Homo sapiens: one gene and its partners. The protein of the gene in region 1 interacts with the protein of each later gene in a pairwise test. Each region holds a gene or a part of one and is shown in the gene's direction. Other genes may lie near its edges.

Evidence for each region. The genes of interacting proteins can lie anywhere in the genome.
Region 2: the proteins of CCDC116 (region 1) and TADA2A interact in binary tests that used the Homo sapiens proteins (3 or more experiments, as listed by UniProt).
Region 3: the proteins of CCDC116 (region 1) and CDCA7L interact in binary tests that used the Homo sapiens proteins (3 or more experiments, as listed by UniProt).

What each region holds. Positions count from the first base shown.
Region 1 is NC_000022.11:21,628,799-21,636,291, forward strand, and holds the start of CCDC116 (coiled-coil domain-containing protein 116), read left to right. Parts: upstream 1-3,961; 5' UTR 3,962-4,029; intron 4,030-4,181; exon of another isoform or gene 4,182-4,185; coding exon of another isoform or gene 4,186-4,383; coding exon 4,384-4,455; intron 4,456-5,223; coding exon 5,224-5,772; intron 5,773-5,886; coding exon 5,887-6,468; coding exon of another isoform or gene 6,469-6,846; exon of another isoform or gene 6,847-7,005; intron 7,006-7,493. Other genes in the region: YDJC (carbohydrate deacetylase), read right to left, coding at 212-389, 510-609, 804-963, 1,053-1,216.
Region 2 is NC_000017.11:37,437,544-37,445,075, forward strand, and holds part of TADA2A (transcriptional adapter 2-alpha), read left to right. Parts: intron 1-194; coding exon 195-286; exon of another isoform or gene 287-415; intron 416-2,961; coding exon 2,962-3,119; intron 3,120-5,020; coding exon 5,021-5,109; intron 5,110-7,152; coding exon 7,153-7,225; intron 7,226-7,532. UniProt on the Homo sapiens protein: Component of the ATAC complex, a complex with histone acetyltransferase activity on histones H3 and H4. Required for the function of some acidic activation domains, which activate transcription from a distant site. Binds double-stranded DNA.
Region 3 is NC_000007.14:21,942,710-21,951,228, reverse strand, and holds the start of CDCA7L (cell division cycle-associated 7-like protein), read left to right. Parts: upstream 1-5,329; 5' UTR 5,330-5,424; coding exon 5,425-5,448; intron 5,449-8,519. UniProt on the Homo sapiens protein: Plays a role in transcriptional regulation as a repressor that inhibits monoamine oxidase A (MAOA) activity and gene expression by binding to the promoter.

The sequences.
Region 1 (7,493 bases):
GGGACATCAGAGGTGGGACCAGGCCGGGCCATGGCCAAGGGCTAGGTAGGCTAGGGAAGGGACGGCGGGGTGGGAGGGGGTAACTGGGGTGGCGGCAGCGGTCGACGCCAGACTCGCTTCCGGGTTGAGAAACGGACACAGCTAGCCAGGTGAACAGCCAGTGCGGAGGGACAGAGGCAGCTATGGTAGGAGACGGGGCGGGGAGCCTCACCGCAGGCCGTGGCGGGAGAAGGGGCCCACGGCGGCCCGGGCGTCGCGCTCCACGGCGCAGGCGAAGGCACGCGCGGGGGCCTCCAGCCAAGTGCAGCCACCCACACCGCGCTCCAGCGGCAGTCGCGTAAAGCGCACCCCATAGGCCTGCAGCGCCTCGGCGAACACCTGGCACACGCCTGCGGGCGGAGCGGGTCAGGGAGGAGCACGTCCTTTCACCTGGGGGCATCGAACTTCCCCTACTCCCCCAGCCCCGCCTGGGAGTAACGCCCTCCAAACTGGGATCACTAACCACGCACCTGGGAGCACGTGCACGTGCTGGTGCCCGTCCGCGTGCGTGGGGGCCCTGCCCAGCAGCTCCCGGAAGCAGCTTAGTTGGGCCTCGAGCTCCTCCCGCACCTAGAGGGCGAGCGAGAGACACCTTGAGCGACCGGGAGTAGCTGCCGAGGATACCCTCCTCGTGCTTCCGTGTGATGGCTCCAGTGTTTGAATGCGGAAGTCATCCACCGCCAGCTCCTAACGGCCTCACAGTACCCTCCGGGCGGAGCTCTGGGGGTCCTCGCGAGCATCCTCCTGTAGCTGCGGCTCCGCACCTGAGGCAAATCCACGTCTCCGGCCGCCACCGCCTCCCGGAATCCCATCTTGCCAAGGAAGAAGCCTTCCGGGCCGAGCAGCGATGAGGCGCCACGGCGGGCCGGACCCACGGGGCGGCCCTCGGACAGGTTGGCGTGGAGGCCCGTGGGGATGCTGTGCCTGAGGGCGGAGCGCGAGCTGGAGCACTAGCGGCCGCGGAGCCGCGCGCCCCAAGCCGATCGCCGCCCTGCTAGAGGCCCTCCCCTCACCTGCGGGCCAGCTCCGCCGCGCTCTCCGTGGCCGCACCGTTGACCAGCAGGGACACGCTGGTCACAGCCCCGGCCAGAAAGGCCTCCACGATACCCTCATCGCGTCGCGGGCAGTAACCAAAGTCGTCCGCGGTGACCACCAGGCGCATGCGAGGGCGGGACATGGCCGCCTGGGTCCACCGCTCGCGCTCCCAGGGGAGTGGGCCGGACAGCCCAGGCCCCGCCCCCGGACGCTGCCCGGGCCCCGCCCCGACGCACACGCCCAGGTGCGGCTGCACTTCGCCTTTGTTCTCGCCACCTAGCGGTCCGGCGTGCCCCTGCAAGGACCCGGCAACTGCTCCCGCGCTAACCAGACCAGTGATGGATTCATTGCAATGCGGAACTTTCCTTGACTGCAAAAGTGATATTTAATATGTAAAATATCAAAAGGAAGCCGGGCGCAGTGGCTCACGCCTGTAATCCCAACACTTTGGGAGGCCGAGGCGGGTGGATCACGAGGTCAGGAGTTCAAGGCCAGCCTGGCCAACATGGGGAAACCCCGTCTCTATTAAAAATACAAAAATTAGCCGGGAGTGGTGGCACGCGCCTGTAATCCCAGCTACTCGGGAGGCTGAGGCAGGAGCGTGGCTTGAACCCGGGAGGCGGAGGTTGTGGTGAGCCGAGATCGCACCACTGCACTCTAGCCTGGGCGATAGAGCGAGACTCCGTCTCAAAAAAAAAAAAAAAAAAAAAAAAGAATCTCCTACCCTTCCCAGAGATTGCCATTGTAAACTTTCTGGGTTGTGTCCTTCCAGTGTTTTCTCTAAGCAAATAAACACACCCAACTCCCTTTCTCCCCAACCCAACTTTTTTGTGTGTTGTTTTGAGAACATAAAGATGATTATATCAATGTTATCACATTCTAGTAGTTTCTTAGCAGTGCGAATGAAAATTTTCATATTATTAGCTATTTTTATTCTTTTTCAAATTGCCTATTGATCTTTTGCAGATTTTTCTAAGAGCAGGCATTTTCTTGATTTGTTGATTTTTTTTTTTTCTTGAGCTCTAGACACTAAGAAAATGAAAGAAAGCATATACACTAAGGCTTCATTTGAGAAAACATTATCTCCAGTTTCCATCTTGAGCTCTCTGCCAGGCTACAGCTTTTACATTCATAACTTCACTGTTTTCTCTTTGGTCCAGAAAAGCTTTCCTTACCCATGACTGTATAAATAGTCATTATGGTTGGCAGCCACAGTTTCCATTGCAATGTGACAGTCTTGATTTTTCCCATGGAAAGTGTGGTATTTGTGTCCGGGCTATGAAATTGGTAATGTCATTCCTGTTTCACAGATGAGGAAACTGGGGTTCAGAGAGCGAAAGTGTGGTCCTGCCAGGAGTAGTGGAGCTAAGACTGAACCTCACACCTCGGGGCCAGCACCCAGGCCTGCTATGTCCTCTCTGTCCCTGACCTAGTGGGTAGCCAGAGCTGAGAGGACAGAGCAGAGCTTGAGAGGAACAATATTTCGTGAGGCATGTGAGGATTGAAAGCCTCATAGAGTCCTTCAGCCATGCTCTTGGCATAAGGACTGATGTGTTTATAGTGACTGGTGAATTGTCAGACCTCAACCAACCACCGTTCTCCACTGGAAGCTGATCTTGGAAAGGTCAGAGGTCCCGAGGGTCTGCAGGTGGGAAGGAGGAGACTGACATTTATTGAGCACCTACTTGGTGCCAGACACTGAAAGTATTAGAGATTAAGGGTGACTTGCCTCTGTTCTGGCCCCAAAGAAGCACCATCTGATAGAAAAATAAGTAGCAACATGGTATGGTAGAGTCTGGAATGGGGTTTACTGTGAATTGCGTAGGGCGTGGCAGAATTCACAGTAAAAGGTTTTTGGAAGAAGTGACACCATGGTGGGGTATTACTGAGCAAAGGGGAAAAGGAGGGAGGGAGAGGAGGTAAGAATATACAAGGCTCCGCTGGGCGCGGTGGCTCAGGTCTGTAATCCCAGCACTTTGGGAGGCCAAGGCAGGCGGATCACAAGATCAGGGAATCGAGACCATCCTAGCTAACACGGTGAAACCCCATCTCTACTAAAACTACAAAAAAATTAGCCGGGCGTGGTGGCGGGCCCCTGTAATCCCAGCTGCTCGGGAGGCTGAGGCAGGAGAATGGCGTGAACACGGGAGGCGGAGCTTGCAGTCAGCCGAGATTGCGCCACTGCACTCCAGCCTGGGCGACTGAGCGAGACTCCCGTCTCCAAATAAATAAATTAATTAATTAAAGAATACACAAGGCTCCACTGGGTTACTGGGTGTGCTGTAGGGAGATTTTATTGAATCCCATACTCCCATATTGGAAGAACACTCAAGCCCATTTACAGTGTGGGACTAATGCTGAGAGGTTGAGTCACATTGGCAGGAAAGAGCAGAGCCAGGAACTGAAGCTAGGTCTGTGACTTAGAGCCGGCACTCTTTCCACTGCAGAGGGGAGAGGTCTCAAGGCAGAACCTGGGGCTGTGCACACCGCGGGAAGGGCAGAGGCCCCTGGAAACGAACAGGAGCAGGAGGCCCAGGGCTGCGCAGCAACCAAGGAGGACACGAGGAAGGTGCTTGTGCCACCGGTGGAAGACGTGGCTTTGGCTTTTAGGCTCCCCTCGGGGCAGGAGCAGATCAAAGAGCCTAGCCCCAGCTTCGGTGGTGGGTGGGGGGTCCTCCCGGCAGCGGGGAGCGTGGGCACCAGCATCCTCAGCCTGCGGCTCCCAGGCGAGTGTGGGAGGGCAGAGCCCAGAGAATTGGAGGTGGGGCCAATGTGGGCCCCGCCCCCAACCATTGTGTCGGAGAGGGAAGTGGACGAGCTCCTCGGTAAGAACCAATGAGGATGTGGTATGCAAATAAGCAAGTGGAGGCCGCCAGCCGACTTCCTCGCACTGTGCAGCTGCTCCAGTGAGGGCGCAGACTGTACTGGCCTGTGCGGAGCAAGGCGGTGTTTCTGGTGAGTCTGTTGATTCTGGGCTGGGGTGAAAGCCAGGTTGCCCAGGGTTTGGGAGGAGGGCGGGTCGAGCACACGCAGATCCAAAGATGATCGGAGACAGGATTGTCCTCAGCGATTCCACCCCGATGACTCTGGAAACTGCCTGCCTGCAGACGCATGGGGGCCATGGAGCAGAGGAAGGGCTGGATGCATGAAGGAGGCGGGGTGCGGGGAGCGAGGGACCCGCAGACTCCAGGGCCACAGATGCGTGGACCTATTGGAGACCCTCAGGTTGTCTCCCCACCCCACGCAGAGAGGAATGCGCAGCTGAAGAGAGAGGTGGGCAGCAGGCCCGGTCACCTGCCAGGTGACCACATGGCCAGGTGCCGCCACCACTCGGGTTACCTGGCCGATGACGAGGCCAGCCACTCCATGTGCAGTGCACGGGTAAGTGTGCCCAGCAGGGCGCCGACCCTTGAGGCCACAACATGTTCCCCACCAACCCTGGCACCCAAGACCACAACCCCCATTTCTCATTGTCTATTGACTTCTCTGGGCCTCTTAGTGAAGTCCTTATTGCCTTGACTTCTCCTATGTCCCCCACTGCTTGCCCCTGTCACACTCAATTTCATTCCTTGTTTCCTCCTGACTTCCAGCGACCCAGAAGGTGCTTGGGTGGACTGGGACCCTAGAGTGGGAGCATGGAGTTGACTAGGTGCCTATGGCTCAAGTTGGAGAAACAGGCCCGGGTAGCACAGGGCTCAAGACCTCAGGTGTTGTCTGCACTCAAGACCTCAGATGTTGTTTGCAGCCCTGCCATGGATACAGGGATGGCCTGCTGCATGGACAGATGAGGAGCTGGAGGGAGACTCCGAGAGATTCATGATTGCTCATCCTGCCACGTGTCAGGGCAGAAGCAGGCTTGCAGACTCCTTAGCCAGGACTTGTGTGTGTGAAATGTAGGTGTTAGGAAAGCTTCGGGGTGACCCTGAATAGACCTCCACTTTGCAGATGAGGACATTGGACCTCAAGAGGGGCCATCTTGCACACTGGCATCAGGCTGTAGGTGGCAGAGCCAGGGTCCAAACCCAGGGCTTCCAGACTCCAAAATGCAGCTCCTTCCACTACTCACTCCCACCCAGGTCCTAGTGTTACCCCAGGGAACCCTTCACCTGTAGGGCACCCCTGCCCCCTGTGACATACCTGTCTGCTCAGGTGCAGCTGCCCAAGAAGCCACTGGTCCCAGAAATGCGGCCAGCCTGCAAGCCGGGCCGTGTGCCACACCCACCATCCACATGTGGCAGCTCAGCACTCCAGGGCCAACGCCGAAACAAGAGGCACCCTCAGCCCTTTGGCCACTTTCTGGATTTCCTAACTGAGAGCCAGGTCCTGGACAGCCTGGAGACAGTGGTGGAGAAGGCGACTGAGCGCATGGCTGCCATGAAGACGGAGGCTGGGGTGCCGCTTGTGGAGGTGCAGGACCCAGTGGAGGTGCCAAGTGGTGGACGGCGGGCACATGCCCGGCCCAGCCTCAGCACCGTACACCGGCACCGTGTACGGCCGACCCTCTGCACTGGACACCCCAACAACTACCCATCCAGCTCCAGCTCCATGTCCAACTGCCATAGCAGCCTCATGGCCGGCTGTCTGGGCTCCCACAGCCGGGACAGTGACCTAGGTGCCCAAGGCTCATTGCCACCTGTGAGGGACAAACTCCTGCTGGAGAAGAACCTCAAGCGGCTGCTACAGCTGGAGAGGGAAGGGGTGAGAGCCAGGGCCATGGCTGGGTGGGGTGGACTCCCATGGAGAGCCCAGGGCTAGGGTCAGCCCTGGCTTGGCTGCTCCTGAACACTTCACAGAGTCACCCTCTTTCTGCAGAAAGGCCTCAGTCAGTCCTGCTCCCAGAGGGACTCCCTGCTGTGGGATTCGCTGGGTAGCCAGACCAGCTTTCAGTGGACACAGGAGCAGCCCTTGTCCTGGTTCTCAGGGCTGCTGGGCTCAAGCTCTGGCGTGCCTGAAGCATCAGAGCCGAGGCCTGGAGAACAGGAGCCAATCTTCCGCAAGCGAGAGTTCAATAAGGAGATCAAGTCATTACTGAGCCAGCTGGAGTCCCTCGACCTGCCTGGCTACTGTCCGCTCCGTGAGCCCCATCGCACGCTGAACTTCCTGGCTGACCACCGCCTCTTCCCTGCCCTGCAAAGCGTGGTCAGCCAGGCTGTGGATAAGCTCCGTGGCGCCCACTGCCGCGACGGCCGTCCTCTGTTCCCCACCAGCTTGGAGCCCACCTCAGATCTGCCGCCTCTGGGCTCTGAGCCAGCTAAACCCACCAATGGCGGGCAGCCCTATGCTTCCCCCCGCCCCACAGTCTCCAGCCCCAAGATGCTTCAGAGAAAACGCAAGGACAGAGGAGGCTCCCCCTCCATGTCTAGTGCCCAGGTGGCCACCAGATTCAAACTCAAGGTGACACCCACGGAGAAGCCCAATGTCCCCAGCCCCTCACTCCACTCCAGGGAGGAGGCACCTGACTCAGATCCCAAATTACAAAACCCACCTGTTTCCCTGAGCTCCAGCCAGAGGGCCCAGCCCTGGCAGGGCCTGCACCTCACCCTGCCCACGCCAGGGATTGTGGTGGAGGTGGCCTGCAGCCAGGGCCACCTCAGGGGCCCTGTCACACCTCCACTTTCCTCCCCCTACCCCCGCTCTTCCTGCTACCTTCTCCCTGAGCTCTCTCCAGTTGCCTCTTCATCTCCCGCCTCACTGTGTCCAGAGGTGACCTCCTCAAAAGTAGGACCGGGCATGAGTTTGCAGGAGAAGGGCTCCTTGACCCACCACTCCTAGCAGCCACTGTCACTAACAGGTGCTCAAGGTCAAGGTCTCTTGCCCTGCACTGTGGAAACCTCCTGGGCAGGGGTCAAGCTGATGGGGGCCCATGAATCCTGGCCTAGCTATTACCAGGTGTTGTCACAGATAAATAAAGGCTATTTTTTATGCTGGGTATTTTTTCTAACGTTTGTATGTGAATCTAGAGACGCTCCTACATGGGGGTGGAAAGTCCCGTCCCTTGTGGACAGCAGCCCAAGCCCAGCCGGGGCCTTGCCTCCTAGGTCTAGCTCCCTTGAATCCAGCTGCCTCGAGCAGGACTCTCCAGTCCCTGGACTTTGCTGAGGGGAAGTTGCCCAGGGAGGATGTGTACAAGACGTAGGTGGCCTCACACTGGTGGGTCTCCAGCACGGTCCCTCGACCCTTTCCTCAGCCATCAAGGCCCCTGCAGCTGTCTCTGGGCACAGGCCTGGGCAGGAGCCTGCCCAAACCCAGTTGTCAAGGCTCAGATTAGCCTTACCCTGTGACAGGTCCCTGCCCTTGCCCCAGGCCCAACAGTTGTAGGAGGTGTGATGGCGAGGTGAGCATGAGAGTGGGCAGTTGAGTGCAACAGCATAGCAGGTGTGGTAAGGCTGTACCCTTCGTGTGGCAAATGTGTTTGTCAC
Region 2 (7,532 bases), on another chromosome or scaffold:
GCCCAGCTCATTTTTGTGTTTTTAGTAGAGATGGAGTTTCACCATATTGGCCAGGCTGGTCTCGAACTCCTGACCTCAGGTGATCCGCCCGCCTCCGCCTTCCAAAGTGCTGGGAGTATAGGCGTGAGCCACCGTGCCTGGCCCCTAGATTCCATTTGTATCTCTGTTCTTAAGCAAAACTTTTTTCTCCTTAGACTTCAGATTTTCCTGTCCTTGATCCCAGCTGGACTGCTCAAGAAGAAATGGCCCTTTTAGAAGCTGTGATGGACTGTGGCTTTGGAAATTGGTAAGAGCTTGGTGTTAAGAGTTGTCCTGCCCTAGTGGACTCAGAGAAGAAGCTGTTGTTGAAGAGTAAAGGAAGGAACCTCAGGAAGAGAAAGTATGTGTTGCTTTCCTATCAACCCATGATTTAGAGGCAAGTTAGTCCCCTCTGTACATTATTTTTCCAGTGTCGAAATGTGTCACGAGGATATGGGATGTTTAGCGGTCCATGACTGAGCAGCTTTAAAAGGCCACTTTGGATGTATCAACAGTGGGAAGATTGATTATTATTCCTTTCTGAATAGTAGGGAAGTTTAGTTTCGTTAGTTATTACTCCCTTCTGATTTTATGAATTTTTGTTAGTTGTAGATGCCCTAGTCATTTAAGTGAATCAGACTTTAGCTAGATGGTCATACGTAAGATTCAAGTTTCACAGACTTCCTGATAGCATTCTCTGTTTTTAGCTTTCAAACACCTACCTGCCTTAGTCCAAAACCGGCGGAATTGAATAGCACTTATTGCTGTTGACCTAGGGGGCAGCACCACTTAATACTACCACTTTCGTTTTTATCTTTTGGGAACACTTTCATATGGATGCTTTTATTTTATGAACTAGATAGCAGAGGCATTATTGAATATATTTTGTTCACAAATTATCTGAAGCCTAGGGGGTTGAAATGATTTCTTGTGATTACATAGCTTATTACTGAAGGACTCTTAATTAGGTCCTCCCTGTCCTGACTTACTAGTGTATATAACCTTTCTTGGTGTTCATCAGAATAAACTCTGCTGCCTGCCTCCCTTATGTCCAGGGACCTGAAGAAGGAGACCTGAATTTAGTTCACATTTTGCTTGTATTCATTCATTCAGTATTTATTAAGCATCATAAAATACTGTGTACAATGAGAAATACCAAAGGAGGTAGAAAAGTAATCACTTGTGAGGAGTTTGCTAGTCATCTTTGGCCTAGTTTTTCATTTTTTGCTTACCATTCTCTCTAAAATAGTCTAAACCTCTCTGTCCTCCTTCCCTCTTAACAAAGAACATAAAAAAGACATAGCTTCTCTATCCGCTGTGGGTAAGGCACTAAGTTTGGCAGTGAGTGGGCTAGAGCTAAGAATTATGAGATGCATCCTGTCTTCAGAAAGCTTATAGTTTAGCAGGGGACTTAAAAATACAAGTGATTGAAGTACACAAAACAGCACAGTGATGCCTTAGGGGAGGTCAAGTGAAATGCTGTGAAAAAGAGACCTTGAGGAAAGGACTTCCACCTGTACCTCTCCATTACCTTGGCTCAAGTCAGGGATTTTTTTTTATTGAGACAGTCTCACTTTATCACCCAGGCTGAAATGCAGTGGTGTGATCACAGTCACTATAACCCCGAACTCCTGGGCTCAAGGGATCTTCCCTCCTCAGACTCCCAAGTAGTTGGAACAACAGGTGTGCGCCACCATACTCAGCTAATTTTTAAATTTTATTATTATTATTATTATTTGGAAACAGGATCTTGCTCTGTCGCCCAGGGTGGAGTACAGGGGCATGAGCTTGACTCATTTCAGCTTCAACCTTCCAGGCTCAAGTGATCCTCCCAGCTCAGGCTCCCGAGTAGCTGGGACTACCGGCGTGTGCAACCACCCCTGGCTAATCTTTGTATTTTTTGTTGAGATAGGATTTTACTGTGTTGCCCAGGCTGGTCTCGAACTCCTGAGTTCAAGCCATCCTCCCACCTTGGCCTCCCAAAGTGCTGGAATAACAGATGTGCCCCACCATGCCTGGCCAGATTCTTAAGCAAGTTTCTTAATTATTTTGGGCCTCATTTTTCCTTCTTTGAAATTGAGATAGTAACAATATCCATACCACAAATTTGATACTAGGTTTAACTTAAATTCTGTTGTGAATGTTTCTAGCTCAGTGTCTGGCATCTCATAGCAGCTCTAGTAAAGAAATGTTTATGTTAAGTGTTTGGTAAACCGTAAAATATTAGGCAAAATAAAACTATATTTCTGTATATTTTGAATGTTCTGAAGTCACTTCTTATTATTTACAGCAATTATTTCTGTAGGGCCTAGCTCACAGGAAAATTTACAAATTTTCCAGTCATCTTTATTTATTTATTTATTTATTTATTTATTTATTTATTATTTTTTTTTTTTTTTGAGATGGAGTTTCGCTCTTGTTGCCCAGACTGGAGTGCAATGGCGTGATCTCTGCTCACTGCAACCTTTGCCTCCTGGGTTCAAGCAATTCTCCTGCCTCAGCCTCCCAAGTAGCTGGGATTACAGGCATGCATGCACCACCACGCCTGGCTAATTTTGTATTTTTAGTAGAGACAGGGTTTCTCCATGTTGATCAGGCTGGTCTCTAACTCCCAACCTCAGGTGATCCACCTACCTCCCAAAGTGCTGGGATTACAGGTGTGAGCCACTGCGCCTGGCCTCAGTCATCTTTCTTTAAGTGGAAAAGAAAGGACTTTTTAGTCATTATTTCTGTGTTTTAGACTAGCAAGATATGGAACACCAGATTACACCAATCTAGGCTTATATTTATGTCATTTTTCTGCTGATATCTTTTTGATATCAATTTGGAAATATGAGAGTATATTATATGGATGTGACTTAAAATATGAAAAGAGCAAATGATGCTTTTAGTATTATGTGTAAATACAAGTACCACTTCTCTCTTTTTCCCACAATCCTCTAGGCAGGATGTAGCCAATCAAATGTGCACCAAGACCAAGGAGGAGTGTGAGAAGCACTATATGAAGCATTTCATCAATAACCCTCTGTTTGCATCTACCCTGCTGAACCTGAAACAAGCAGAGGAAGCAAAAACTGCTGACACAGCCATTCCATTTCACTGTAAGTGCCTCCCTATCTTGATAAGATATACTTAGCTCATCCTTGGGCCCTGTTTCAGTAGCAGATAAAGAGTGATTTGATGACTTGGACAGCTAATGATATCACGGAAGATAGGAGGAGTTAGTATGGCAGCTATTGAGAGTCAGGATCGACCCAGCATGGTGGCTTGTGCCTGTAATCCCAGCACCTTGGGAGGCTGAGGCGGGTAAATCACTTGAGGCCAGGAGTTCAAGACCAGCCTGGCCAACATGGCGAAACCCTGTCTCAACTAAAAGTATAAAGATTAGCTGGACGTGGTGGCAGACACCTGTAATCCCAGCTACTGGGGAGGCCAAGGCAGGAGAATCACTTGAACCGGGTAGGCGGAGATTGCAGTGAGCCAAGATCACATCACTGCACTCCAACCTGGGTGACAGAGTGAGACTTCATCTCTTAAAAAAAAAAAAAAAAAGAGTCAGGATTATAATGTGGCAAAGAAGGAACATACTCTAAGGGTCAGAGTTCTATACAGGACATCAAGGTGCTTGAAGCCAATGTGTAGTTCCACCTACCTTGAGTCCTTTGAACATATCAGTTAACTTAGTGCTTTCCTTTGTAAAATAAGATGTCAAAAAGGGAAAACCTTTTCTATGCTATTATGAGTGCAAGTTTTTTTTCAATCCCTTTGGAGAGCTTATGATTATACATATGAGTTGCTTAGAGAATACAGTATTTGACTCATTATTATTAATTGCCTTGGTGTCAAGCCCAAGAATCAGTTTGTTATTTTTGTTCGCTTGGTTGTGTCAGTGATGGCGAACTTTTTAATCTCATGTGCGTGTGGGACCAGTGGGTCTCTTAATAAAATATAACCAAAAACATGATGAATTATAAATGACCATCTTTCCTGAATGACTCTCAGGGTACAAGTAATGAGATATGAATGTTTTCACTTCCCTTTTCTCTTTCCTCATACTCTCTAGAAACAGTTTTATAGCTGACTAACTTAAAGGCTGGTAATACCTCCTTTTTTTTTTTTTTTGGAGACAGAGTCTCGCTGTGTCTCCCAGGCTGGAGTGCAGTGGCACAACCTCGGCTTACTGCAACCTCCACCTCCAGGGTTCAAACGATTCTCGTGCCTCAGCCTCCTGAGTAGCTGGTACCACAGGTGCATGCCACCACACCTGGCTAATTTTTTGTATTTTTAGTAGAGAAAAGGTTTTGCTGTGTTGGCGAGGCTGGTCTCGAACTCCTGACCTTATGATCTGCCCGCCTCGGCCTCCCAAAGTGTTGGGATTACAGGTGTGAGCCACCGTGCCTGGTTGATACCTCCTATTTGGATAGCACTTTGGTGTTAGCACTTTGTTCTCAAATCCATTAGACCATTTGTTTCCTAACAGCAACCCAGTGAGATAGGCAGAGCAAGTGCTTTTGTTTTACATTCGAGAAGACCGATGCAGACAGGTTAGTTTGTGCAGGGTCATGGGACTAGTGTGTGTTGGAGCTAGGACTTAATTTCAGCTAACTTCCAATTCCAGTGTTTGTTTTTTTCCCGTCTTTTTTTTTTTTTTTTTTTTTTGCCTCTCAGTTGGATGAGTTTTGTAAATTGAAGTTCATCCTAAGGGATAAGGGAGCCGAAGCCAACGGTAAATATTTAGGTTCTGTAATATTAAAGGAAAAAAGTCATGATTTCCTTTCATTTTAGGAAAGCAGAAATCAGAAGAAATTTCCCCATATTTACTTAAAGGATTGCCTGAGTCTTGGTTTTTCTTTTTAAAAAACCTGTTTTCATAATACTTTATCTTTTTCACATTTCCTTTTATAAAAACCATTTTAAATTTTATTTATTCTTGGACTATTATGTCATTTTTTTCATGCCAATATTGTATTAGTTAACTCAGAAACCTTCTAAATTCTTCCAGCTACAGATGACCCTCCCCGACCTACCTTTGACTCCTTGCTTTCTCGGGACATGGCCGGGTACATGCCAGCTCGAGCAGATTTCATTGAGGTAGGATAAATGTGTTTTTAGCACAAAGTAGGAAAAATTCATTTTTGTTTCTCATGAGCCTTCTGTCTCACCCATAGATTCCATACCACTAAAAGGAGATTTTTCAAGGCACTATAATTTGTAGGACCTTTAGGCAGCCACATTTTCTTAGGTTTGAGTGCCTTTTCTCATTTGTAAACATTTTCACATATGGAACAGTAAAAATTCTTTAAACAAACAACCTATTTCTGGCCAGGCTCAGTGGCTTACACCTGTAATCCCAGCACTTTGGGAGCTGAGAATGGAGGATCGCTTGAGTCCAGGTGTTCGAGACTAGCCTGGGCAACGTAGTGAGACCCTGTCTCTACAAAAAATAAAAAATTAGCTGGGTGTGGTGGTGCATGCCTGTAGTCCCAACTACTTGGCAGGCTGATATGGGAGGATCACTTGAGCCTGGGAGGTTAAGGCTGTAGCGAGTGGTGATCATTCCACTAAACTGCACCCTAGACAACAGAGTAAGACCCTGTCTCCAAAAAACAAAAAAACCCCAGCAAACCCACCTCTTAAGTTGCATCAGTGCTGGCTTCCACTTCCTTAGGTATGAAATTCCTATAGTCTGGTTCTTTTTTTTTTTTTTTGAGACAGAGTTTTTGCTCTTGTTGCCCAGGCTGGAGTGCAATGGCATGGTCTTGGCCCATTGCAACCTCCACTTCCTGGGTTCAAGCGATTCTCCTGTCTCAGCCTCCCAAGTAGCTGAGACTACAGGTTCCTGCCACCATGCCTGGCTAATTTTTGTATTTTTAGTAGAGATAGGGTTTCACCATGTTGGCCAGGCTGGTCTCAAACTCCTGACCTCAGGCAATCCACCAGCCTCGGCCTCCCAAAGTGCTAGGATTACAGGCGTGAGCCACTGCACCTGGCTTGTAGTCTGGTTCTTATTGTACATCTAGGGGCTTTCAAGATTGTACTGTATCAGGGGTTGACAAACTTATTCTATTAAAGGCCAGATAGTAAATATTTTAGGTTTAGTATGCTATAAAGTTTCTATTGTAACTATACTTTGTCATTATTGTGCTAAAGCAGCATGGGATAATATAAGAATAAATGAATACGCCTGTGTTCCAGTAAAACTTTATGTACAAAAACAGACAGTAGGCTGAATAGTAGTTTACTGATTCCTGTACTATATCCACAAGTATATAAAGAATGATGAATGTGTATAAAAACTATATGTTCCTTGCTCAGCTATGGAATTAAAAGACATGTGAATGTAGCCACAAGTCTCTTGATTTATCATCTAATTCACAACTTGAAAGATAGTTTGGCCAAATGCGGTAGCTTACACCTGTAAATCCCAGCACTTTGGGAGGCTGAGGCAGGCGGATTGCTTGAGCTCAGGAGTTTGAGACCAGCCTGGGCAACATGGCAAAACGCTGTTTCTTCAACAACAACAACAAAAAAAACCCGAAACCAAAAATTAACTTGAGTGTGATGGCACATGCCTGTAGACCCAGCTGCTTGAGAGGCTGAGGCAAGAGGATCACTTGAGCCTGGGGGTTCGAGGCTGCAGTGAGCCAAGATCACACCACTGCACTCCAGCCTGAGTGACAGAGTAAGACCCTGTTTCCAAAAAAAAAAAAAAAAGAATGAATTGACTTTATTTATTTATTTCAGAGACAGGCTCTTGCTCTGTTTCCCAGGCAGTCTTGAACTCCTGGTCTCAAGTGATTTTTCCACCTAAATCTCCTGAGTAGCTGGGATTATAGGTGCATGCTACTGTGCCCAGCTCAGACTAATTTTAGTTTTTAGAGCAGTATGTTTAGCTTCATTCCTAAACTCATAACTATTCCAATTTTTTGTTGTCACTACTGCTTGTAAGCCTCTTAGATTTTTCCCATGACTTCCTATTACCTGTGCCAGTATTGTGGCCTTTTGCCATATTTAGACTTTTTAAACAACTGTTTGCTTGTGTTTTTTCTGTTTACTTCTAAAGCATGGCTGCTGTAAAGACACTAATCAAAGCCGATGGGTTTGGGGTGGGGATTTTTTTGTTCCCCTAAACAGGAATTTGACAATTATGCAGAATGGGACTTGAGAGACATTGATTTTGTTGAAGATGACTCGGACATTTTACATGGTAACAGTTTATTTTGTCAAATGTTTATCGAGCGCCAACTGTGTGATGACACTGTCTTGGGTGCTAGGAATTGAAGGATGAATAGAACATGTCCCCTGCCCTTATAGAATTCAGAAATCTAGTGGTTAAGTTGCTGAACTTACTGTGTTGTTGGATTTTGACCACAGTGAATAAGACTTGTGATGAGGGTAAAAATATTGATTATATAATAGTAGTAGGAAATATCTGTTGGACTGTGTGATTTTACTTTTATCTGAGGTAAATCTACACTAAGGTAATTGGTTAAATGGCCCTCACTTGCATTCTT
Region 3 (8,519 bases), on another chromosome or scaffold:
TGTAATCCCTGCTATTCGGGAGGCTGAGCCAGCACAATCGCTTGAATGTGGGAGGCAGAGGCTGCAGTGAGCCAAGATCGCGCCATTGCATTCCAGCCTGGGTAACAGAGGAAGACTCCGTCTCAAAAGAAAAAAAACAAAAAGAATATAGTATTACTCTATTTCTGATCCCAAATTTTCCATTTTATAACCTAAGATTTTCTATTATTGCCTGTCAAATACTGAATCAGGGCTAGCAAATAGAGATTACTTACCATACCTGAAGCAATAAAGTTTTCCAAATATTATAACAAATATTGATACTTTGACTTTCATCTCTGAAATACTGTATGGTTGGTTATTTTAGCCTTGACAAAATAGAAATTAAAAACTGCTTTTAAAAATATCCTGCATTTATCTATTGAACTAATGAAATATTTTATGACTTTTTGTTATTTAAGAAGTAAAAGTTATTTTTATAGATACATTTATTCTGAGCTCTGTATATTGACATTTTATAGATTATTTTTAAGTATGCTGCCTAAATGATTATGAAAAAAAGTGTGGTTCTTTAAAAACTACGTACCAGAGTACTTTTGTTGATACCACTAATTGGAAATTAAAAATTTTCTTTTATAAGACCTAAATTCATAGAAAGGTAAGAATTATTGAATAAGATGTTATTTTCGCTCATTTGTTGTCAGTGCCTAGTCAAAATAATATTTTATGTTCACATACTAAATGATAAATAATGCACCATCTATTACAAAAACCTATGTAATATGGGTTGCGTTAATCGTATTTGGAGTTTACATAGCATCTCTAAGAAATCCCAAATGCTTTGAAAATATTGTTTCACTTACTTTTACAGCACTAGTTTTGAAAAGATGTAGAACTCTCAGCTGAAGGATTCAAGGAGGGAACACATTCAAAGGTTAATTCAGCACAGGGCTTAGAGCATAGTGAGTACTCTTTAAATTAGCTGCTATTCTTGATATCACTATTACTATTGACTTTTTGAAAGACCACAGGCATTAAAGTTTCATCATGATGTGTATTTTTCTGCATCTGATATATGGACAGATCTGATTTTTGATTGTCCAGGTTATTTTGTCATAAGCCATTAGGGTGATTTTCATCACAGTGTTGTGACAACATCATCTTGACATACCAAGTCAGGAAGATGGAATACCGGGTTGTAATAATAATAAAGAAAAACGTTCCAGAAACGCACCCAGTCAGTGTTAGATGATGATTTTACAAAAGACTCAGTTCTAGATCTTTGATTCTGTAGCAACTTGGAAATTTTATATCTGAATGTTTCAAATTTAGGGAGGTCTCCCCATTCTAGGGTAGGTGTTATCTGATCACAATGAGATGGAAGTTTCAAGAGACCAAGAGCTAGAGAACAACCAGTGATGTTTTCCTGTTTAACGGTCACTTTATTTATTCACGACCACATACAATGCCAAGTGGTACTCAGATACTGTTACCAGCTAGGTCCTAGTCTGTTCTGCCCTGAACAGTAAATCAATTAGTGTGACATGGGTTTTGCAAAAGAAAAAAAAGATTTATTCACAAGGGCATGGAGTGAGGAGGTGGGAGAATAGCTCTGAAGTACGCCTCCCTGAAGATAAGGCTTAGGGATATTTATGGGTTAGGGAAATGGGGTGGTCTGAGTTATGGGGAAATGTAATCGGCACTGGGAAAAAAACGAAGTAACAGGCTCATTCTGCACAAATGTAGCCAGAGTTCATGGCATTATATAGGACATATGTACAGAAAAATGGCAGTGTTAGCATGATCTCAGGGTGGAGTTTTTGACCCTCTGACATCAAAAGGCCACCTCTCAGGCACTTGAAGAGTCAGTGGCCTCAACCAGTTTGAACTGGACAGAAGCTGGCCTAAGTTTCTGAGAAAAAAAAAAAATGGAAGCAACAGTTACCACGGTGACCTATGAACGTTATCTATAAAGTAGCCAGTGAAGTTAAGTCTCAGTGTTCAGTGGTGCGGTGTTCAGCTACTGCAGCCTTCAACTTCGTGGGAAAAGGAAACAACACCAAGAGGCAAATGACCAAAAGCAAGCAGGGGAGGCAGACCTAATGAAATTACCTCTCAGTTTCTATAGACTCATGCTGCTTCCAGCTCTCTGCAGAAGGCAGATTCTCTGGTGAGTTGTCCAGAGCACCAAACCAGCACGATTTTCTGTTATGTGGGGAGGACTAGGGAGTTTGCCCACAACTAAGCTCTGTGGGGACGGCAGAGATACTACTTCAGATAGAGGAGAGATGTTTGGGCTCCTTTTACAAAGCAAAAATCGTGGGCCAGGGTTGACATCCAATTACAGCTCTCTCACATCATTTAATGAGGTTCAATAATGGCTTTGTAGGGGAGTAAAACTTCATCTCCATCCTTTTGGGTCCTGGCTGGGTCTGAGGATTAAACTGACATAAAATAGATTAACAAGAGAAAAGCATATAGATTTGTCTAATCGAAGTTTTATGTGGCATGGGTGCCTTTTTAAGGAAATGAAGACCCCAGGATGAAGTTTGAGTTGGACATTTATATAGTGAATTGCACAGAGTAGTAAAACTGAAAATGCGATGAGGCAAAGGGGCATGGGCTAGTGTAGTTAATTGGGTGGAGAAGTGACTGAGAAGATAAGGGTTAGTTTAACAAGGTTTGTTTGTACAGATTTCCCTCAGCTTCAATTTCCTGTCTTTGATAAGAATGTGGCTTTCCTTCTTGTGTAGGGAGGACAGCTTTCATAGGGGAATTTTATCTCCTGCTTTTAAGAAACAACATTAAGTTCAGAGTGATCTTCTCCTACCTGCTTTTTTTTTTTTTAAGTGCTTTTAACTAAAAATAGTGAATATGCCAGAGCAGCATATTTTAGTGTGGCATTATTAACTCCTTTGGCTTCTAATCACAAATTTCTTACCTTGTTCAAGGTACTGGGGACCAAGTTTTTACTCTCTCATGGAAACATTTAAAAAGCAATCAAGCATGGATTTCTAGACAGACTTCTTAAAAGAAGTTGCAAACATTATGTCTTCTTTTTCTGTGTTGCAATATGTATACTGTTGCATCTGGAAGGGACACTCATTCTTGCAGTGCCATGATGAAACCCAGTGCTCACATCCCGTGAACCCTATCAGTAATAATTATTAGAAAGTATTACTGCAGTGCCATGTTTAAATCCTCTGGTTCCTTAGAGATTTTCCCAAAGCCTGACCAAAACAAAACAAAACAAAACAAAACAAAACACACCACTATATAATCAATTACTAAATACCATCAAACGTGTACAGGCTTTGCTAAGCACAGGAAGAAAATTTAGGGGTTGTCATCTGAAGACTTAGGGTTAGTTATGGCAAATTTCTAAACAGAAAGGTTCAACAGCTTACAGGTTTCCTGATACAGAAGTAGCTAGTCTAGGCTGCTTCAAGTGTTTTGCAAAATCTGACCTGCTTCAAATTTGTGCTCCCTTTTCCAAAATTGATTTGATTTAACCTACAATGAAAAGAAGTGCAAACAAGATCAGCAGTTCATGAGGAAGCAACTATCTAAAAAAAAAAAAAGAGGAAGAAGAGCTCTGATTGAATTAATTTTCACTCTAAGCTTCCTGGCAGCCAAAGGGAAAAAATACAGAAAAATGGAAAGAATGTTGGATCTGGAGGCATAAGGAATGGTTTTCAGTTTGGCAGTCTGCTGCTGTCACTTAGTGGCAGGGTGGCAGGGATCTCTTAATGTATTTTCTTAGATTCTGTTTCCTTATTTTAAAAATGTGGACAATAAGGATCTGGAAGGATATTGAGAGGATTCAAGGAGATACTGCATGTGAAGGAAAACTCTAAAGCATAATAAAAATGAAGTGGCCATAATGAATAAATAACATTATCCAATAAAAACAAAACATTTTAAGTCACACAATGTTGTATTGGTTTTACTACCACCAGGAAGTGAGAACACTGAGGGCTGGAACATGAAAGCACATAACACATGTTGTTTGCTGAACTAACCAAAGGAAGGAAGGAAACCTTTTCCATGTTTTCTCTTCAAGCTTGAGTAAATGTTTGGCAAATTTCATTCACTCGTTCAATAAAGAAAAGATGAACGTCAGATCCTAAGCAGCTGAGAGGGGCTGCAGAAGGTCCTATGCGTACAGGATGCTCTACTGTAAACCTATGACCACGGTTCTAAATAGGTGTGCAACACTGTCCAGCAAACCTGCTGTGATTTCAGGACAACTTCATTTACCATTCTCCCCACTCTCTACTTCAACTCTCCCACAATTTCCACAAACTTAATTCCTCACTCTTCATATCTGAACTCTAAGAAGTATTCCCTGACCTCTATCAGATTGTCTTCCTATTTCACACCACCATTAATACCACTTGCCTTTTTTCTCATGGCATCATCGCTCCAAATTTACATTTATTTGCATCATCATTACATTTGTCATTGATAGTGGTATCAAATTAATATTAATTATAAATCTAATTTATAAAATTTACATCGTTATTACACTTATTTGCATCATTATTGTATTTATTTAGAATAATGCAATTAGGTTGGTAACTGGCTCTCAGGCTGTAAACTCCAACAGAGCAGGGGCCTGTTTTTGTTCACCCTTCTGTTCCTAGGACTAGCCCAGTGCCTGATGCTTAGTAGATGCCGGGGTCAATTCTGTTAAATTAGTCAGCATTCCTGACCTCTACAAACTCTTTGTCTGGTGGGTGTGGAGGCCTACTGTGTAATGGCCGTCTAAAGTTTCAGGCGGGTTTGCATCTGTCCACCTGGGCCTTGGTAAAGAAACCTGGGTTGCCTGTTCTGCAAAGTGAACCCTGTAGCAAATGTTTTGGGAGACAGAATCTTCCCAAAGAGAACCCTGCCCCGTTACAACAACAAAACAAAACAAGCCCCAAAGCCGCCCTACAATATTTGCCTGGATCAGAGACAGGGGTTGCAGCAGAAGCTCGCGCCCCAGGGCATGACCTGGAATAAACCCTGCCAAGTATCCAGCGCGCGTGCCAGCTGGAGGCTGCGCCGGGACAGCCCCCTCATTTCTCCCGCGCTAAACCCCGCCGGACGGCTCCACTCCCTCCCTCTGCTGCAGGGGGGAGCCCGGCGCCCTAACACTGGTAATTGCTCTTGCCGCGCCCAACTGCAGCCCCCTCTCGCGCCGCCTGCGAAGACAAGGTCAGTGGCCGCGAAGTTGGAACGTGATCGGAGCCACGAGGCCCAGTGAGGCGGCACCGAGGGGGCAGCGCAACGCGCTCCCCCTGTCCAGGGCGTCAAGTGCGCCCCTCCCGGGGCCCGCCTGTGCTCCGGGCGGAGCGCGCTAGCTGCTCGGGCGCGGGGCGTTCTTGGTGCGCCGGGCCGTGGTGAGTCCGGGCTCCCGTGGCCGCGTGCTGGGAGGAGACTGGAGCCCGGTTAGGAAGAATGGAGTTGGCGACTCGCTACCAGGTGAGGGTCCGGCCGCCCGCCGCCGTCCGGACGCACCCACAGTTTGACTTCCCTTTGCCACCCGGTCCTGCTGGCCTTGGGCTGGAAACGTGGCCCTTGGCTGCGGCACTGGGGATCTGGCGCGCCCAGCCGGTTGAGTGCCGGAGTGGGCGCGCCCTGCAGGTGTGCGCAGTGGGTCACGTTTGTGCTACGCGGACCACAGAGGCCGGTCGCCCCAGCACACAACCGCGCTCAGCCTGGCGCTCTGCTCAGTCTCGGGTGGCCGCCGGGGGTGCAGGCGGGGAGCTAGCGGGGCGCAGCGCCTGCGTTTGCAGCCCTCGTGAGACGGGGGAGGGGCTTTTTTTGTGCACTCCCCACACTTTCTCCGGGAATTGGCACAGAGATCAGGAAGCTTAAGAAAGTTGTAATTTTTTTTTTTTAACAGTCGATCGCCAGACCAGTCCAACTTGGATAATGGAGTTTAAAAATAATAACTTTAGTGTTTATTCTAGAACTTTTGTAAACGTTTTCAAGGAATTAGTAACCATTTGGGGGAAATGGTAACGTCATTGGGCCGAGTTAAACAAGCTGCAAGATCCCAAATCATATGCACAGCACGACCCCAATTACGCGTTAAGGGCCTAACTCGTCTTTAAAACTCATTAGCAAACACTTGAGTAAGTTCCCCCAAACGTTTCAGTGAGTAGTGGGAATGTGAACGTGACTTCAGTTTTCTCTTTTTACTTCTTAAAAGAGCTTTTCTCTACGTTATCGTAATGGAGATACATGTTTACTTAGAAGTAAGCAATAAAAACATTTTTCATAAGAACTAAAAATACAACCTTTAAAAAGGGAAACAAGCAGCCACGCCTCTGCTTGTGGGAGCACGGAGATGCTTTGTGCGAGGATTGTTTTTTTTTTTTTTTCCACTTGTTTTATTGAGAGTCGCGAGACTCACTGCTTCCACCTTGCTTCCGACTGGTGTTTACTTTCCTCCACCTGCGTGCCTGGCCCGGGAGAAGGGGAGGCGGGGCCGCCAGCGTTGGAAGGCGCAGAGTGCCCGGCGCCCGAGCCCAAACCGCTGTCACCTGCCCGAGTCTGGCGGCAAAGACTGAGCCACTAACGGTAGCTTTGGCCTTTTAGTAATTTCTGAAGCCTTCCTGAAAATGGTCGCTTGAGAAAAATCTGTTGTTGATGTTTCTGAGAATATTTTTAAAATGCCTCCTGTGAGATAAACTATTAAAAGCAAGGGAAACAGTAAAGCCTACGGAATGAGACAGGGTTCGATTTTTTATTTTTTGCCACTGGCTTTTACCGTGTATTAGCATCCTTTTTTTTTTTTTTTTTTTTTTGGAGACGGAGTTTCGCTCTTGTCCGGGGTGGAGTGTAATGGCGCGACCTCGGCTCACTGCAACCTTCGCCTCCCGGGTTCAAGCAATTTTCCTGCCTCAGCGTCCCGAGTAGCTGGGATTACAGGCGCCCGCCACCACGCCTGTCTAATTTTTTGTATTTTTTTTTTTTTTTTAGTAGAGACAGGGTTTCACAATGTTGTCCAGTCTGGTCTTGAACTGCTGACCTCAGGTGATCCACCTGCCTCGGCCTCCCAAAGTGCTGGGATTACAGGCGTGAGCCACCACTTCCGGCTGGCGTCCTAACCTTCTAGGAGTTTCTGTTGCTACAGGACTAAAAACAAAAAACAAACCCTCTGGATGGAGATTTGAGCTCCTTGTGAGTTTAGTCAGAAAATGTATCTGGAATTTATCACTCCGGAGCTCCTTGTGAATGTAATCAGAAAATGTTTCTGGAATGTGTCACTCCTGTTGTTAAGCTGGAGAGTTCTTTGCACTTCCACTACTGATATTCATAATTCATGCTTAGGAAACTCAGAAGTCCCAGAATGTGTAGTTGGAAGTGAGCGTTTACTGCCACACAATGAGGCTAATTTTTGGTAGTTCTAAAATGTTAAATAAACTATTTATCATGTAGGGGTTACCCACAAATTATATCCGATCCATTATGCACCAATTAAGGCAAATTACTATATGTAAGATGATCAGGGTTTTTTTTTTTTTCCTTTTCTGAAGACCTAATTGGCAGTGCAAATCAAAGATGTGTGATGGTTTTTCCAGTGGAAATGTTCCTGTTCATCGTAATTTAAATGTGCACAGATTATAGTCTCTAAATTAGTGGAGAGTGGTTCTGTGGGGTGGGCAGGTGACTGCGGATAAGAACACTTAATGAACATTTCAGGCACAGCAAGATGTTAAATTCGTGTGGTTCCACCCTGTCCCCCAGCCTTATGAATAAAGCAATGTGATGAACCACCTGAAGTGGCATTACTGCACATCAAATGTCGCTCAGCTCAGTGTGCAGTGGGTTTTCATCTCACACATTGGAGTAAGTATAATTTCTATCGCTTGGAAAGCGCAGAGCTAAGTGTTTCAGCAAAGCAGCTTAGGCCTAATGTTATGAGTAAGAAGCAAACAAGGAGACTCATTTACTCTGAACTACTTTCGAGTCTGCTTTCCTGCCATCCCACCAGTGTGTTGGATTTGATGTCCTCTGACAGTGATTACGCTTCCCCCAGGCTGTAGTCTTGTCGTGCTGACCACTGTGTCTTTGTGCTTTTATATAAAATGACAGAAATAGCTCGTAAAGGCAAGGGTGTGATCCCTGACTAAGAGCTGTCAACAGTGCAGCTCATGGGAGCTCCAGCTTGCTGCAGCTCCGTAGGAGAGAAACTGGTAGGCACTGAATGTCAGTGTTCTCCTCGTACTCTGTTCTAGCTCCAGAGTACAGGATGGCCCATTTGAGAAGGAAATGATGCTAAATGTTCTTGTAAATAGGCAGGAGCACGCTGTTGAAGGGGTAAAGGGGTATTTTTCTGGTATTGGTCTCTTAGCTGCAAAGTGCTCCCATCTGATCCTGTTGTTTAACATGTAATTCCAGAGCCCCAGAAGCTGGTCACAGAAAGGACAATGATTTGCCACTCTAATAGTCTTGTATTTAAAACGCTCCTTGGTTGTTCTGTGTTCTGCTGGCTACCCCATCCATAGCAGAGCAGGATTCTCAAAAATCAGGCGAAAACCTCA